2 separate regions of the Homo sapiens genome follow, and region 2 is linked to region 1. The links come from fine-mapping of genetic effects on gene expression. A gene starts in region 1. The other region holds a variant in brackets. All regions are shown on one strand. Distances are between the middles of the regions. Region 1 holds the start of IL1RAP (interleukin 1 receptor accessory protein). Region 2 overlaps IL1RAP (interleukin 1 receptor accessory protein).

Region 1 (9,436 bases):
CCTTCCAAAAGCTCAAAATAAAATGTCTCTATAATGTGCTTTCTTTACTCTGTACCCAGCCAAATATATACACATATATATACGTGTATATATATATACGTATATATATGTATATATATTAAACATATATACGTATATATATAGACACACACACACACACACACATATATATATATATAATTTGTTGTTTTAGTTTTTGTCTTCCAATGATTCTGATCTCCCAAAAAAATGTAAATCAAAGGAAGAGGGCGATATATAAGTCACTTAATATCTTTGTATCAAAGTTTAACCATGAGAGTTTTGGACTGAATTGTAACTCAACAAATGTTTATTCAATGAGTACTACGTGCAAAATATTGTCTGTTTGCCAGGGAAACATTATATTACCCTCCCGGAGTTAGCATTCTAGTGAAAACAGCATTCAATAAGTAAATTAATTAAAATGTTACGTAATGTATTATTTGACTTGGTTGTCAGGAAAAGCTTTGCTGGGAAGGTTATAGTGGAGCAGGGACATTAATGAAGATGTGAGTAAGAGGAGAGAACAAGCAACAGGGGAACAGCGGTCCAGCAAGGGGGAACAGCAGGTGCAAACACCCTAGTATGGGAACATGTTAGTGTGTTTGGTCGACAGCAAGGAGCATGCTATGGGAGATTGAAAGAAGCAACTCAGTGCTGGATCATGTAGGGCCACACAAGGACTTTTAGGCCATAAATGACTATGGAAATTTATCTGATCATGATAAGAAATCACTATTTGAAAGCAGAGAATGACATATTTCTTGTAAAAGAATAATGAATATTTATATTGCATTTCTACATGCCAATCCCCATGCCAAGTGTTTTACTTATATAATCTCATTTAATTTAAAAACAGCACTATAATGTATATTATTGTCATTGTTATTCATATTTTTCAGAGAATAAAACTGTGAAAAAAAGAAATTAAGTAACTTGACCACATTATGTAAACTTGATCCCAGGTAGTCGGGCTTCAGATTCCTTGACCTCAATCACTAGCCTGTATTTATTCTATTTTCATTTATAAGGGTCTCTGAAGTAAGGGCAATAGACTCTTTGGGTAAGAGTTTAAGCAGGGACACCAGTGAGGGGAGAGATGGCAATGACTTGAACCATGGTGGTTGTGATGGAGAAGAGGAATAGCGTGGTTGGATTTGAGATGTGTTTTGAATGTAGAGGAAGCAGAAGGTTTGTGGATATAATGTGTACAGGCAATGAGAGAGAGTGATAACTCCAACTTTTTGACCTGAGCAACTGGGTAAAAGACAGTGTTGCTTACAAAGCTCTGGTTTGGTGTGGGGCAGAAATAAAGTTTGAATTTGAACATGTAAAGTTTGAGATGTATTTAAAACATCCAAGAAGGAGATATGAAGGAGGTAATATGGTATACAAAGTCTGGTTTGGGCTTTAGATTTAGATTTGCAAGTTATTATCATATTGATATTTTAGAAGGCCATGTGTCTGTCTGAGTTCCCCTAGGTAGAGAATATAACCACTTCAAGGATTGAGCTCTAGGACACTGGAACCTTCAGAGATCATGAAGAGGTAGAGGATTCAATAAGAATCTGATAAGGAACAGCAGATGAAATACATGAAAAACAAAGAGTCAAGTACGAGAGAGTGTGAAAGAGCAACAGATTATCTGTGTCTAATGCTGCTGATACATGTACAATGAAGACAGAGAATTGATCACCACATTTGGCAAAGTGAAGATCATTACAGATGCTGACTGTGGAGTGGTAGAGATAAATGTCTGAATGGATTGGGTTCAAGAGACTAGCAAACTCCTGATGCGTCTTACAGCTACAGCAAGATAATTAAAGATAACCTAAAAAAAAGGTGGAGGGTAAAAGCTGGGAGAAGAAGAGAATAATAATACCTTTCCAAATACATCAATCAATTGCAAAATATTTTATTGTGCATCTTCTATACATCCAGCAGTATTAGTCACTGACATCAATGAATTTGTAGCTTCATTTATTCATTTAGGCAACTATTATTCATCAAATGTTTAGTATGTGATGGATATTTAATGGGTATAGCTTTAAAATATTTTTCTCAATTGTTAGCATAACATTTTTTCATTTTTAATTATTACGGGTACATAATAGGTGTATATATGTATGGGTGACATGTGATGTTTTGATACATGCATACAATGTGTAATAATCACATCAGGGTAATGACAACAGGGTGTCATCACCTTGACCATTTGTCACTTCTTTGAGGAACATTCCAATTTCACTCTTACTTATTTTAAAATGCATAATTAATTATTGTTGACTGTAGTCACTCTGTTGTGCTATCAAGTGCTGGGTCTTATACATTCCAGCTAATTATATTTTTGCAACCGTTAACCATCCTCCCTTCCCCACAACTCCCTTGCCTCTGCTACTCTTCCCAGCCTCTGGTAACCATCATTCTACTCTCATATCTCAGTTCCTTTGTTTAATTTTTAGCTCCCACGTGTGAGTGAGAATTTGCAAAATTTGTCTTTCTGTGCTTGGTTTATTTCACTTAAATGTAAAAGGAAAAAGAGATGTTTCTATTTCTGTAATCCTAACATATCAACATTTTTTCACATTCCTTTCAATTGGTGTTCATCTCTCCACAACTTTTACTCAACCTTATTTTGTAAGCCTTTTTCTTTGTAGACATATTTCCATAATATGATAGTTATGATGCAAATATTTTATTCTGTGCGTAGACAGCGTTGGTTAACTAATCATTTTCATTTCCAACCATTTATATTGTGTTCAAACTACAATATACTATGAATATTTGTCTATATGATTATTCATCTTAATGTTATCTTCCTTAAGCTATGAGTAGCCCTTCAATGTCCGGGAATATACATCTGGTTCAATTCTGAATTACTAGCATCTGTTTGGCTTCTAGGTAGTACATGAGACTGAGTAGCGGCTGAGAGCATGAACGTCGAGTGTCTCTAGTCTCATTTTGTATTCTCCACTTGTAGGCCTGTAGCCTTGGTCAAGTTATTTAAATTCCCTTTATCTCCTTTATGAACTGGAGATAATAATAGCACCCTCCAGGTTGTATTGAGGGTTACCTGAATTAATATACACAAAGTCCTTATGATTGCACCTTTTTATTTTGTAAGCACTGTGTAAATGCTTCAGTGTACTATATATATATAAAAGTCTGTGCCCAGAATATATTTAAGGAATGAATAATAAATCAGAAAATGTTTTATTGTTGCTTCATACAGGTAACATTTTAAATTCTTTTGGATTATTTTCTCTTTGGTTCAGTGACAATGTTGTGAGCAGGTGCTGGGTCCCAGGTATCCTGAGATAAATAAAAATTTTGAGCAATTAATTTTCATAAGTGATGTCAAGAAGTAAAGTATCATGAACATTTCTATGGCTCCAATTACACTGATATTTCACCTTAGGAACTGAAGCTCCGCCAGGGCAGGGGCAGCCTCTGAGTTTCGTACTGCTGTGCACCTTTAGCAGCACGGGCACCTGCTGGTTTCATTTCCTTCCCACTCACCTGGGCCCTTTTCTTATTTCACATCTTTTTTCTCCTTTTCCTTAAATGCTTTCTCTGAATCTTGATTCTTGAAAATAAATTAGTAGGATTCAGTTAGGTAGGAGGAGGAGAAAAGAAGATGTGATGAGCAAGAAGATGTGCGAAGACTCGTCAGTCTGGTAGGTGGCTTTGGTTAGGGGGTTTCAGAAATGGGGACAGGTCATGAAGGGCCTTGCCAGTCAGGAAAAATCATGAGGCACTAGCAGTAGGAACACAGCAGAAGGTGCCTGAACAAGAGAGATGACTTAATGAAAGCCTTTATAACGCTTCCCGGGATATATTACAGACTACCATCTACAGTGGCAGAGGGCAGCTGAAGGAAGGCTCTTGCAAAAACTTGGGGAAATGGAAATGAATGAAGGCAAATATTTGTTTTGAGATTATTTCCTTCTATGTAACCTATTAGTTCTTTTATTCGTTCCCCATACATGTATTGAGTGCCTACTTTGTGCCAGGCACTGTGCTAGGCAATGGGTATATTACCAGTGGACAATACAGATTTAGTCTTGCTGTCATGTCCTGTTGCTTGCTCATATGAATGTCAGTTCAAGACAGCAAGAGCTCAGGACTGCGGAGATCGCATCTACATCCTGCCGCGCTCTGTGCCGGCACAGGGTGGTTGCGAAAATCGTGCAGTCTGAATTGATTCAAGGCCTTGCAGCATGATTGCTAAATACGTCGAGACAGGAAGAAAGGGCAGGGTGGCACCGATCTCAACTGCGAGAGCACGATCTTGCAATGAGCGCATGTGTGCGCCTCGGTGTGTAGTGAGGGGCGTAGCTTCCCACAGCGCCTGGCAGCGTGCCGAGCTGCGCTGCAGGACTAACCCTCTCCTTTCCCCGCGCGCTCAAGCCCGCACAGGCGGTGGCAGGGAGCCGAAGGGGCCGAGCGCAGCCTTGCATCCGTCCGCAGGCGGGCCCGGCGCCGCGCCTCCTGGCGGCGGGCGGGACCGTCCAGGACGCCGCCCCGCGGCCGCAGCTCCTGGAAGCCCAGAGCGCCGGTGGATCGCGAGCCAAGGCGGCGGGTGGAGCCTGAGCCGTGAGGCCGTGGCCAATCGCGCCGCTCCGGGGGAGGAGCCCCAAAGGGGGAAAAGAAAGTGCGGCGGAAAGTAAGAGGCTCACTGGGGAAGACTGCCGGGATCCAGGTCTCCGGGGTCCGCTTTGGCCAGAGGCGCGGAAGGAAGCAGTGCCCGGCGACACTGCACCCATCCCGGCTGCTTTTGCTGCGCCCTCTCAGCTTCCCAAGAAAGGTGAGTCTCGCGCCGCCGTGAGGGCTCAGAAGTCACCAAGCCGCAGAATCTCAGGGTAGACGGATTCTTAGAGATCCTATCGTTAAACCCTCCTACTTTACAGAAGAGGAAACTGAGGCACAGAACGAGGCAGCGGCTGGGATAGGTCATACTGCTAGTTAGGACTGGAGCCCGGATTCGAACCCAAACGTTCAGAGACCCATCTTTGCTTTGCAGGGATTTAAGTAACGCGGTTGTGGGACGTCTGCTCGTTGCCGCCCCCATCCTCAGCCCTTTGAGGGGTCTACCCTTGTTTTCCTCCTCACCGCCCCCTCCCCGCTACCACCCCCCGCCCCCATCTCCTCCTTGGTTTCTCCAGACCGCTGCTGGAAGCGCCGAGGACAGAAGGAAGCGGTGTGTCCCAGCACGCCCACTCGGTATCACGTCGCTCTCAGCGCAGAGCTGTGACAGCCTGGGAAAATGCTGCTTGCAGCCTCACTCCCTCTTCCCCTGACCTGCTTTCTCAGAAAGATGCCCCTTCAGAGGGTGTCGGACCAGCTTCTGGAGGAGCGCGGGGAGAGAGGAGCGAGGCCCGGGCGCCAGTGACCTCCTATGGTACTGTTTCTTCCCAGCCCCGGAGGAAGCGGAGCTAGTGGCCCTGTGGGGCACAGGGTGCCCCTCACTTGGGAAGAGCTGACTTCATGGAACCATAGAGCCCCTTCCCTCTTCTAAATACTGAGAGGGAGCAAGGAAGCTGAGTTAAAGAGAAAATCACAAACATAAAAGCAAACTTCGGCTGTTTCCTTTAAGAGCTAGCCCACAGCCTGTCTTCCCTCCACCTTCTGGTTGTGAAATTGTGAACCAGGGCGCCACGCGAAGCATTCTGCTGCTCTGCTGTACAGATCCCTGGTTTAGCTACTGGATGAGAAAGAGGACTTGAGTTTTGACTCCAGCTCTTCCATGTATTAGCAGTGTGAACTTGGGCAAGTTATCTCACCTTTCCGATACTGGGTTTTTCTTTTCTTTCTTTCTTCCTTTTTTTTTTTTCCAGCCAAAAAATGGAGATTTATAATGGTCACAATGAGCCCTTTGGGTAGTTGGAAGGATGAAATGGGATCATTCAAGTAGCATGTTTAGCACAGTGCCTGGCCTGGCATCTGGTTGGTTCAAAACCAATGGCAACTATTGTAAATATTGTTACATAGTAACCTTGCAGACAGTGGGTTTTCAGAAAGGTGATTTCATACCATCTTACAGAGGCATTTTAAAAAAATCTGTAAATGTGGTGTCTTTCTTCTTTTGAATTTGAGCAACTCTTTTATAATAAGAATTTTCTGAATGTTGTCCATATGTGATGTGGATCATGGATGCTTAGCTCGAAATGTAAAATTGATGTTTCTCGGTGATATGAATTTCCTACTAGTTTTTAGGTCAAACCTCAGGCCTGTGAACTGCCCTGATCTGAGACATCCTTTATTGACAAAGAGGGTCTTGAAATGGGTGAGAGGCAGAAAGACAAGAAGACAAAGTTGGAAGTTGCAGCTGTGTTACAGATTATTCTAAGCCTTCTATCCTTGCTCTCTTAGGTCAGTCGAGCAACCTTACATTTTTCATCTAGTATCAGAAAACAAACAAAATTCTCATATATTTCTTTTGGATTGTACAGAGATGCTGCTAAATGCAAACCTTTCTGGACACAAACTTGCCTTATTTAAACACGAACACACAGACATTCACATGCCCACACTAGTCTTCCTGTATTATTGGTATTTTAAAGTTAAATGGATTCCCTCCCACACCCTTAACCCTTCTCATGACAATTGATTTTATTCTGATGAACTTCATGCAATAATTTACTACTATCTACTGGCTTTGCCATGCGTCCTTAAATTGAGTGTCCAGCATTTGTAGTTGGCTGCCTCCTTCACAGGCCATAGCATTTGTATGCAGTATTGGTAAGTGCTTGAGAACAGAGTGTGATACATCTTGATGGAAGATAAGAGCCCAGTGGTGCCCACTTAAGTACCTCCCGCACCAAGCATTAGTAAAGGATGGGATCACCTGCTTCTATCAGCTTGTTCCATGTACATGCATTGTGGTGAGCTGGCTGGGATATGACTGAATGTGTGCCTGAGAGACAGGGGCCTTGTGGGGGAAAAGGAAAATGTTCAAAATAAGGTCAGATCATGAGGATGGAAGGGAGATTAAAAGCTAATTCCTTTGGTTCTGATTCTTCAAAGAAAGGTTGGTCAATTATACCCATATCTTCATACAGATTATTACTTGTTACCAAAACCATATATATGTATAGAACTTTAAAATTTCCAAAGTGCATTCTGTATATATGATACTCCTTGTTACTCACAATAGCCCTGGGAGGACATGGCAAGAATATTAATAGAGGAAGGAGCCCAGGTTTTGTGGTCAGACCTACTTGATTTCAAATTCCAGCTCTCATGCCTGAGTAGTTGGGTGATATTGAGCAGTTTATTTAATCATTTGAAGTTTCTGTTTTATCCAGTTCTAAAATGGAAAAAAAAAATGCTTACTTTAAAAATCTGTATAACGAATAAATTCAATAGAATAATGTCAAGTACATGTAGTGAATAGGTGCTCATTAAATGATATCTCTTCTTAGCTAGTCTCAATTTATTTAGAACATAACTGGAATGAGACTCAGAGAAATGAAAAGTTGCTAGAGGTCATGTGTTAGTATGTTTCAACTCTGGGAATACAGTTCACACCTTTTCATGTCTAGTTTAGGGCATTTCCCATCACACTCTGTTTCCTCGCCAATGAGATATTTAACAATTTACTTCAGTTATAAAGTTGACCTTATTTGTCTGGTTATTTCAGGATATCCTTTTTGTTGAAAAGCAGGTATTTTCTTGCAAAGAGAACAATCCTTAAGCACAGTTCTGTAGAGTTTAGTGGAGCCAACTGTCATAAGAGGGTATTTAAAGCAATGGTCTCTAAGACAACCTTCCTACTCTCCTGTGTTGGATGTAATACACCTTTGATTCCTAAGAGAAAGGGTACTAACTAAGAAGACATAAAGTACAGAATTATATCACTCTTTTCTTCCTGTTGTGAGTGGTTTCTTCCCTCTGCCATCCTCATGCTAGTTCAAAGGCTGGGAAGAAGATTGAACAACAAATGTTATGAGTGTCCATGGCATTATTCAACTTTTTTTTTTGACAATTTTGTGGGTACTGAGTAGAGTAGACAGAATAATGTGCAAAGGTGGCATTTGCAGAAAGAGACCACTGCTTCCTGGTGGTGCTGATTACTTGTCTGGAGTTTCACTCCTCCTTGTGGAAAGTGATGGCTGGAGGCTCATGTTGGAAGATGAAGGGATCTGTTTCTGGCCCAGGCAGTGGGGCTGTTCATCTGCTGAGACTTCTCATAGGCCATTAGATTTCTCTTCTTTGTAGCAAGCACACAGGCTTGCAAACGCAGATGTAGAAGGAACATTTTGCTCCTTGCTTTTGGCATTTTGGAGCATATGTTTGCTCCTATAGGTAAGCAGTTAGCATCATCTTACCTGGCACGGTTAGGAAAGCAGAATGTGGCTTGAGGAAATCAGAGGACGTAGAAAAAAACAAAGATTATCTCCAGCCTATACACAGCTTCATTTGTTGCTCAACTTCATCAGGCTTTTGCTGGTGACACAGATGTAGGATCTGGTGAGTCACTGTTGCCTTGCCCATGAAATATTAAAGAGAGCCACCTACTGTGCTCTTTGCCCATTTTGGAAATTGTTCTGCATGGAAAAAAAAGAAGAAGAAAAGAAAAAAGAAACACCAAAGAATAGGAAGGTTACAGAACATTTGGTAAGTGATATTTCGGTGGATAAATTCAGGTTAGCCATTCATTTGCTGCCTTTTTTTTTTTTTTAAATGATAATGCATGGTTTACACTGATAGGGTTGTTAGGAGACATCCCTTTGGTCTGACTTTATTCTAACTCTCTGTAGCAGCTGTGGTAGTGTGGATTTTGAGAGTCTGGCTGAAATCTGAGGCAAGTTATTCTATAGAGATGATCTTTTGGCTCTGCAGCTAGGAAATAGGGACACTGATGCCTGCTTAGAAGCTTAAGTCCCTATTTATTTCAACATCTTATTCATAGAAAACATTTAATAAACACTGATTCTGTCCTCTGCTAACAACTCCTTCAATGTATTAGTCTGTTAAATTACGATCATCATAATTTAACAGGTACTCTTTACTTGTCTCCATCATTATTTGTGCTGAGTATCTTAAATATATCATCTCATTCAATCCTCACAATAATCCTGTATATTTTTTTAGGAAACCGAGGCTCATAGAGTTACGTAGCATGGCCTATGTATTAGTCTGTGTTCATGCTGCTGATAAAGACAGACCCAAGACTGGGCAGTTTGCAAAAGAAAGAGGTTCATTGGACTTATAGTTCCACATGGCTGGGGAGGCCTGACAATCATGGCGGAAGTCAAGGAGGAGCAAGTCACATCTTACGTGGATGGCAGCAGGCCAAAAAAGAGAACTTGTGCAGAGAAACTCTCATTTTGAAAACTATCTGATCTTGTGAGACCCATTCACTATCACGAGAATAGCATGGGACAGACCTACCCCACATGATTCAATCATCTCC
Region 2 (9,436 bases), 52 kb after region 1:
ATAACATTGGTACCTTTAATCTGTCAAAACCAGCCTGTTCAATCACGTTTCCTTTTCAGTCTGCTTTATTCTAATTCATCACAGGGCAGGACTGGCCCTGGATGTGTGTTCGCAGACAGGTTATCTTTAGATTAGCTTTGCCTTGGTGACCTGACTCTTTGCTGCCTTCAGCATAATCCAGTTACTCTTGGGAATATCAATTAAGGCCCTCAATCACACTAATTAGAATGTCTTATAAATGTTGCCTTAGGAATTCAGCAGCTTATAAACAGGCAAACTGGGAAAATCTAGAGGTATGTGGGGGTTTTTAAATAGCTGACAGCAATTTGGGAGGGCGTATTGCTTTAGCATAGCTGAGAAGTGGGGCTGAAATTACGGTTCCCTGAATGCAGTGAAATCTCTAGTTGCTCTTTGCTGGCAAGTTTAATGCAGAATTATTAATTACATTTATTAATGACTTGGATGAAGATATAGGTTGCATGCTGATCAAGTCTGTAGATGTCACAAAGCTAGGAAGATAGCAATTATTGTGATAACAGATTCAGGAGCCAAAATGACTTCAAGACAGAATTTAGCAGCCATCTATCTAATACGCGCCTGGCAGTGCTCTATAAAGTACAATTTGAGGGTCATGTTGCTCCCCTACTCAGAAAACTTTGGTGACTCCCTATTTGCTCTTTAAATCCCAAGCCTTTGGCCTGTTATTTAAGGCTTTGCCATATTATGATTCTACCACTGTCTGCTTTCCAACAAAATCTTCTGTAGTTCTTTTTCTAAAACCTTGTGCTTGAGCAAAACTCAGTTCTTTATATACTATTTTCCATTTGTGTTCTATGCTTTCACTACCTTTGAGCATTATTCTCCACTGAAAGTTTCTTTTTCTCACATGTTCCTTCTGTCTCAAGTCTAAATATCCATACCAGTTCAAATGTCACCTCTTGTGTTTCGTCTTCTTTTATTGTCTTGGCTGGAGTGACCTCTTTCCTTTGCTAATCTTCAATAACACTTATCTGTTCCTCTCTATTTTTATCACTTTTTACTTCATATTGCAGGGGGTTTTTTTTTTGGTGCACATTTTAAGTTTCTGTTAGACCCTGCCTAGTGCTAGAATTTCTGTCTGGTAACTCTTTTTATCTCTTAAGTGTCTCTAGATGTGTGTTCTATACATAGTTGATGATACTAAAGTGTCTTGCTGGGGGTTCATCTTTACTGTGGAAAAGTGCCTTTAGAGAAGACCCTACATTTTGCCCATGAGAGGCTTCGTAGCTGTATCATAGCAACTTGGAAACTCAAAGGATAAATCCTTGAGGGGACGGATATTCCATTTTCCATGATGTGCTTATTTCACATTGCTTGCCTGTATCAAAACATATCTCGTCCACACACACACACACACACACACACACACACACACACACACATCTGCTACATAACCACACACACACACAAACTAAAAAATTTGGAAAAGAAGGAGAAAATGCTCAATACATGTTTTATTGAATAAATGAAAGACTGATGGAGAGAAAAAGATTTCCCCAAGGTCATAATATAAGAGCTGGAAGGAAGAGGTGCTGGGAAGAAAACATCATTTAATTTATCAGATGAAACAACAGCTTGTGATATGACGAGCTCACCTGTGATTTGTGTACAACCAGGCTAAAAAAGGAAGCATGAACCAGAGATTTTTGGAGAGGTGTGGTCAAGAGAGGTGACGGGAGTTGGAAACTTGCATAGTCCTTTAGGGTGGCCACACCTCTTGGATTCCTTGTGTAGTTTATATCTTTTGTTATAATTTAATGCTCTTAAAATTGGCCCATTTTAAATGATGTTATATGGTCATCTTATTTATCAAATACCTCTTTGATCTGTTTAAGCTGCTGCATACCTGTGGTTGTGAAACTTGTGGCATAGGCTATTTGAGATAATAATCTTTGTAGTTAGCCTAATGTGGATATAAATAGCATCTTTGTCACTTACTGGAAATATGAGCTGGACAAGTTATCAAGACCTCTGCAAGCATTCTTATATGGCTGTTACCTTCGACACAGAAAGCAGAGTTCTTGAGCATGGAATTTCTGCATCATCTTCAGGTTTCAGTATTTATAACCCACAGAGGTTTTACCAGTGGCCAGATATTTCTTGGGTAGTAGAAAAAGAAATACTTCACAGAGCTGTCAAATCTCCACATCTTCAGCATTAAATATCATGCAACCAAATGTAAGGGTATGGTTCACAGCAGTTGGCTGTTTCAGCTGGTTATTAATAGGAAGGCGAAAGATCATAGAAAGTTGACTCCTCCCTCATCATTTCTGTCTTCCAGTGAGAAGAGGAGAGCACGAACAGCAGGAATTAGATTTATATATTTTCCTTAATATAAATTCACAGTATGGTAGATTGCAGACAAAGTCTGAATCCAGGATTTCTAGACTTTCTATGTGTCTATGTGTCACTAAAAGGGAAAAGTACCTGGATTGTAAAGTATTCCAACTAGAAATAGACCAAGGGAATGCAAAGAGGGGTAAGAAGGTTGAATTTATCTGCCAGAAATGTAAATCCTGGTCAAAAAATCCAGATGAATATTTTTTAAGTAGGCAGTTATAGTTCAGTGAAAAAGAGAGTTGTGGAGCCAGAAAGCTGGAGTTTGATCATAGCTCTACCACTCTCTAGCCAAAGGATCGTGGTGATGTTATTGAAACTTGTCTCTAGCCAAAGGATCTTAGTTATGTTATTTAAACCTGTGTATTAAACTTCTTTATCTGCATGTAATATGGGAATTGAAAAACAAACAACAAAAAAACAGAAACAAAATAAAACCTGTCTTATTGGTTGGTTCTGACAATGAAATTTGTTAATATTGTAAAATTCTTAGAACAGTCCCTAGTCTATAGTCAGCAGGCATGAATGCTAGTTATTATTATTTAAGCCCTTGAAAGTAGTAAGTGATTTCCCTTACCTTTGTATTTATGGTTACAGGATGACACTTCTGTGGTGTGTAGTGAGTCTCTACTTTTATGGAATCCTGCAAAGTGATGCCTCAGGTAAGTGAATGGCTTTTGACAATGTATTAAAATGCAAGTCATGCGTAGGGTAATGAGTCCACTCTTCCTGAAAATGAATTTAAATAAACATAATGTTATTCATGTCCATTGTCTTCTGCGGTAGCAAATAATCATAAAGCAGAATAATAGAATTTTGATGATGGAAAGAACCATTGCTGTCTCTAGTCTTCATGGGATAGAGTACACAGGGGGCAGTGGGCCGCTGTGTTTAAACACAGGTATTTTTCATTACCTTCACACTCAGCCAACTAGAATATTGCTTTTTTCCCTTACCTCAGGTCCTATGGGGGAAAAATGGGAGTGATAATAGCACAATCTGTTTTTCAAATTTGAGCCAGTGGTGGAAAAGTTATCAGTGGTAATAATCCATTGAGATGTTAAATAAAATAATGAGTTTTTGTCATATTGTTTCTATATAGGAAAAAGAAAGGATCTGTCTTTAGACTCATTCTTTCTCTGGATGTTGCTTTATAAGAGGAACCAGCTAAGACCTTTATAGAGTTTGAAAACCAAACTCAGTCATCATGGGCCTGGATCACGTGAAATTAGATATGGAAGAGACTTGCTATTTGAAAGTCCATCTTTTCAGATCTCCTCTTCTTCCCAGAATTATGCCCAGAATCACTCTCTATCTCTGACTATTAATCATTACATTTCAGCCTATGTTTTTGGACTAATCAAATTCTTAGAAAGTTTTTAGTACATAAAACTGAAATTTGTCTCTTTGATTTTAGTATCTAAAACTGAAATTTGTCTCTTTCCAAACATTTACTTGGTTCAACTGTAGGACTGAAAAAAAAAAAAGAAACAAACAAACAAACAAACAAAACAACCAAAACCTAATGCAATGGTTCTCTAATTGTAATGAAGGGAACCTAGAGGTCCTCATTTTATAAAGCTTTTCATGTAAAATTCCCCTGAACACCATAAACCATACTTTACATATCGTTGCTTTAATTCCTTTTCTTTGTGAGAGGGCTTCTGCAATGTTAAGTTAGCTACCATATAACCATGACCTCAGTGTTCTGCAATATATGCCTTCAACTGTTTTTCATATGACATGGATTTGAGCTCTCCTACCATCCTGATCATCTTTTCTGGGTGCGTTTCAGCTTTTCTATGCCACATAAAACATTGTATTAGAAACCAAAAATAGTACTAAAGGAGTGGTATAAGTAGGACAGAGTACAGCTCAGTGCTGAAACTAGCAGTAACTTCTAGCCTTGTTGGCCCTTTGGGGCTTCACAGAGGAATGGCTGTAGATAACCGGAGATGTTATTCGGCTGGGATGCGCTAGGAGACAGCTCCTTGGCTGTTTAGTCCAGCATCTGTCCTGCTTGGTTAGGTGTCGCGTTTGATAGGTGAGTTTCTTGATGTCCTGATTTTCAAATATGTTAAATATAATTCTTGATTTTAGTTTGTTCTTATTTGATTTAGTTCTATGTTTGAATGCTATCTGCTCACAGAGGCTTCCTTGACCATCTTAACTAAAAATCCCTACCAGTCACTCTCTCTCCCTCCATCCTGTTTTAGTTTTCTTTGTAACACTCACATTCCCTGATATTATATTAGCCTTCTTTCTCTTCTCTCCTCCTCCTCCCTCTTCCTCTTCTCTTGTTTCCTCCTCCTTTTCCTTCCTTTTTTTCTTCCTGAACTCCCTGTCCTTCCTCCTTTTCTGCCTCCCTTCTTTCCTTTCTCTCCATCTCTTTTTCTTCCTCCTTCCCTCCCTCTGTCTTGGATTTTAAGCTGCCTGAGGGCAGGAACTTGTTCAGGAACTTTTGTTTGTTATCCAAACACTCAGAATAATACTGACACATAGACACATAGCAGATGCTCAATACATAGGTGTTAAATGGTTGAATACATGTCCCTTTACATCCTTTCCCCTGCCCCCAGACTGTCCAGTTTTATAATGGAACGTGTTTGGGTTCATGCCAGTAATTCATCATGTGGTTTTATGTCCTCCCTCATCCTGAAGGAAGAGGGACAGGTGACTGTGTTACCATTGCTGAAGGATCATGGAGGTTCCAGAAGCTAATGAGTGCTGGTGCCTTCCCAGCAGTCCTGACCATGTTACTTTTCTGAATGACCTTTACTGTAATCCATCCAAGGAGTCCCCAGCCCCCACCTCAAGTGCTGTTGGTAAGAGAGCTTTCTATCCAGGAACTGTGACTCATAATTCTGCCAGGGGAAGCTAACTTCTTGAATAAGATAAGTTCTCATACCAGCCACATTGCGTCACCGTGGGAGCAGGAAACATGTTGTAATCCCCTCAGCCCATCTGGCACGTACTCATTTGCCTTCCTTATGAAGAGGTGTATTGTGTCTGACAGTGATGCCACTTCCTAGTTGGAGGGAGAGGAACAAAAAGGACATGTTGTTGACAAAAACGAAAAGAGCAACTGGCTCTGGGCTAGTGGGGGAAGAAAGAAATCATTGCGCATCTTGAGGGATCAACCAACCTCTCTGCACATGAAAGTATTGCCTTTTACAAGGCATCTGTGGATGCTGACAGATTTGTTGGTCTTTCATGAGGCTCTCCCTGTGCTCAGGTTCCCATCTCAACGGAAACACAGGTTGATGTGAGGAACAAAGCAGAAATGTT[C/G]TGAAAACCCTAAAGCAATCTACATGCGTATCATATTAGTAAGACATTTATTTTGTTCTGAGTCCTTCCATGTGGGCCTTTTAAGAGAATCCTCAAATATAAAAAAGAAACCATAAAAGCATAAGAACTTAGCGCCATGCAATGTGTTTTCACACGCAGTGAACTGGCCGTGAAGTCATACGATTCTGACTTCCGATCATGATTTTTCTGGTAGCAGTACTGTGATCCCCTTATCCCCTCAGGAATGGGGGAGCAACATTTTCATCTTAGGTGATGATAAAAGCAAATGATTTTTTAAGAAAGCTTTATTTCCCTTTAAGGAATTAAAGCTTGGATAATTATAATAGCGATTCTATAATTATAATGTGCTAGTTATAGTAATAATAATAAAGCTCCCTTTGCTTAAAAAAGCAGTTTGCATTGTACATATTCAATGTCAGTCTCACACCCAAACCATGGGGTAGTCAGAGCTGTTGTAACTACCTTTGTTGGGTAAGACAAGTTAGGATCAAAGTATTTAATTGTATTACTCGAAGTCACACAGCTATACTTAGCATGCTTGTGACTTCAACGAGTTTCTGGATTCCTGACATCCATATTATTTTTACGAAATATGCTCCAGTTGGGGTCTATTAGAATATAAATTACTAAGAAAAAAGATTAAGATCTAAGGGATCACAGGTAATCATTTTGCAAACTGTTGAAGAACCACTCTGTGATAGGTTTCTATGCTTTGTAGGTAAGGTATATCCTTACACGCTTATCCTGCCCCCTCACAGCACTGAAACATTTTCTTCAGGAGGAAAATGATTGTAATACAAAATTCAAACCCAATATTCCTTTTTTTGCTTATTATAGTATTAAATATTTTCACTAATAAACTCGAAGAAGTTCTGTTTGTAAGACTTCGAAATGGAAACTTCAGCTCAATACACGTCTCTTTTGCTGTGCCTCATTGGCAGTGTGTCAGGAAGCTGAACTGTTAAAAGCTGCCTTTGGAGTAGACATAAATTTTGGAACCTGTGATCCCAAGTTGAGGAGGTAATAAAAATAGCACCATATAGAATATAGTGAATTTAAAAAATATTACCATATCAAAATTATTTGCTGGACAAATCACATGAAAAAGAGAGTACACTGCCACCCCAAAATGCAGGCACACACACGGATCTTTGAGAAAGATTTTATTTCAAAGTCAACAGTTGACTGTGTGCCAGGTGCAGGGCTGGATTTCACACACATTATCAGGAACTTCGCAGGAACCATTGTACAGGGGTAGGGGCTGGAGACTCTTCTACCTGTTTGATAGTTTAGGAAATGAAGATCCAGGGAGGTGGCCCAAGTGCTCATGATAGCCTGGCTTGCCTGATAGAGCCAGGCTGCCTTGACTCCAGAAACAGTGCTCTTTTTTATTTTTCCATACTATAATTGCCTTTCTTTAGGACTGTGCTCTGCTACTAGAAGTAAGATCCTCTGATTCCTTTTCCATTATATTTTACAAAATTGGTAGAGAATGGAAATCATCTATCCAATGATTGGGAGTGAATTATACAATGCAAAATAAATAAATAGTAAAAAACACTGTGGTTTCCTAGTAATTGAGAGATTCAAGTTCTGTTTTACTCTGTGACTTGTTTGATGACAGTAAAGGGGTCATTTCATCACTTTTTGTCATTGCATCCTTATTTATAAACCAAGCCAACCAACCAAACAATTAACAAACAATAGCAGCAGATCCCAGTCAATTCCAGTTTCTTGATTTTTATGAAGGAACACTATGCATCATGGACACACACAGGGTATACTCCTATTAGCTACTTAAATTCTTTCTAATAACAATGTTAACAATGATTTCACTTTATTCTAAAGATCATGCGTTTGACCATTTTAGATTGTAGAATCCAGGGTTAGTAAGAGGAATTTCTTATTTTAAGAGGAATACAGTAAAGTTTGAGAGAAGGAAGAGGAAATAATTACCAAATAGAATTCCGTGAGAGCAGAGAAAGTTACCAATCCTATCAGGAGATATTGGGGAAGACTTAATCATTGCTCCTTCCTAGGAAGAAACGCATCTCTTATTTGGGAATGAAATAGTTCAGGGCAACTCAAAAGATAGTGCAAAGGCATTTAGAAGCCAAGCTGGAAAGGTAGGTTGGGAACAAATTATGCAGGACGGGAATTACTTCAGGTAAAGAGAATGTCCACATTTAATGTATTTTGGTTATAGTTGGCTAGGTTTCTTTTCCTTTTTTTAAATTCTGTCGTATTTTTGCAAGGACATACACTATTATTAATTCTATGTGATGGTTCTTTCACCTTTTGGTAAGAATTCAGTTTGTTACCAGCCCCAGTGGCCTCATTTTATTTGAATATCCTTGCTTTAATAACTCCGTGCTCAGATATACTTGTGACATTGTGTCCTGTCCCAGTTGCCCATGGCTGGTCATCCTGAACACTCTTCATTTCTATGTAATTTAGTCCAAACATTTGGAAAATGTATGAAGAATACTGTTTCATTTTATTCTTAGTCCTAAAGGTCATTGGAATTACAGAATTTCACCCTGTTGTCATTTAAATGATGCCTCTCGGAAGCAGATCTCTTCACTTTTTTTTTTTTCTTTAGCTGTGTTTATAGCTTGAAGCACACTTATATTTTAGTTACTTATATTTCCCAAGGGTGGATTTACTGTAGCCTGATTGAAAAGAAATTTAAGTACCACATAATTGGCTTGATACTGAGTTTGCAAATACACAGCTTCTTGTATCACAGTGATAATTCTAAGTTTAGAAAAATGACCTGGTTCTTTTTCACATGGCTGTGTTAGTTAAAGGAAACCAGTATTTTTGTAGGAACTCCTGCATACCGTTGTAGGAAAAAATGTTTGTTTTACAAGAATTTATTCTACCCTTTGAATTACCTTTGTTTTTGCTATCCTTTCCCTCACTCCCCCAACCCTGAATATTCATTTCTACCATATTTTAGGGACCAGATTGCCACCTTAGCAGTGACTCACTACCAAGACCAGTTTCTACCCACTTTTCTTTCACCACTTAAAAAGTTTCTTTTCTGTTTAACTGATTAACTTTTTAGAAAATAAAATATATACCCACCCAGGATAACAACACAATGATTGCTTTATTTTTAAATCCACTGAGTGCTGCCATCTCTCATTTATTTTTGAGGAACAGTGAGAAAATGGATACATTTAACAAATAATTTGGGAACCTCAGTCACCTTCAAGTTACCTGCTATCCAAACCTATAAAAGCTGATGTACAAAATTTTCTGGCTTTGCCTTTGCGTGTTTTAGAGATAGTGGGAATAATGAAAATGCAAGATGACTACGACAATGAGAGAAAATAAATAAAATAATCACTTCCTCAGCAACCTAGACCATATTCTGTTGTGTTTTATGACATTCATTTCTCCTTCTACCATAGGAACCAAAATGCTTGGTATAGCTATACATTACTGGGAAATAAATAGCACTTTTCTGCAGTGTTTGTAGGGTCTGAAATAGTTTAAGGCTCTTATCCATCAGCCCATTTTTTTTTACTTCTGAGATACTTTCATATTTATTTATTTATTTATTTATTTATTTTTTGAGACGGAGCTTCGCTCTTGTTGCCAGGCTGGAGTGCAATGGTGCGATCTCAGCTCACCTCAACCTCCACCTCCCAAGTTCAAGTGATTCTCCTGCCTCAGCCTCCCTAGTAGCTGGGATTACAGGCATTTGCCACCATGCCCAACTAATTCTGTATTTTTTTGTAGA

Evidence for each region. PIP is the estimated chance that this variant, and not a neighbour inherited with it, causes the effect.
Region 2: its variant is fine-mapped to the expression of IL1RAP in whole blood (INTERVAL, PIP 0.97).

What each region holds. Positions count from the first base shown.
Region 1 is chr3:190,509,395-190,518,830 of GRCh38, forward strand. IL1RAP (interleukin 1 receptor accessory protein) reads left to right here and starts at 4,691. Exons shown (of 12, transcript NM_002182.4): 1 at 4,691-4,825. RefSeq lists enhancers at 4,038-4,127, 4,880-5,381, 5,382-5,881 and a silencer at 4,278-4,627.
Region 2 is chr3:190,561,316-190,570,751 of GRCh38, forward strand. IL1RAP (interleukin 1 receptor accessory protein) reads left to right here. Exons shown (of 12, transcript NM_002182.4): 3 at 2,974-3,038. The coding sequence starts at 2,975. Among named protein-coding and RNA genes, the nearest start is that of IL1RAP, 52 kb to the left of the region's middle. RefSeq lists an enhancer at 4,542-5,741. The variant C/G (reference allele first, on the strand shown) is at 5,665.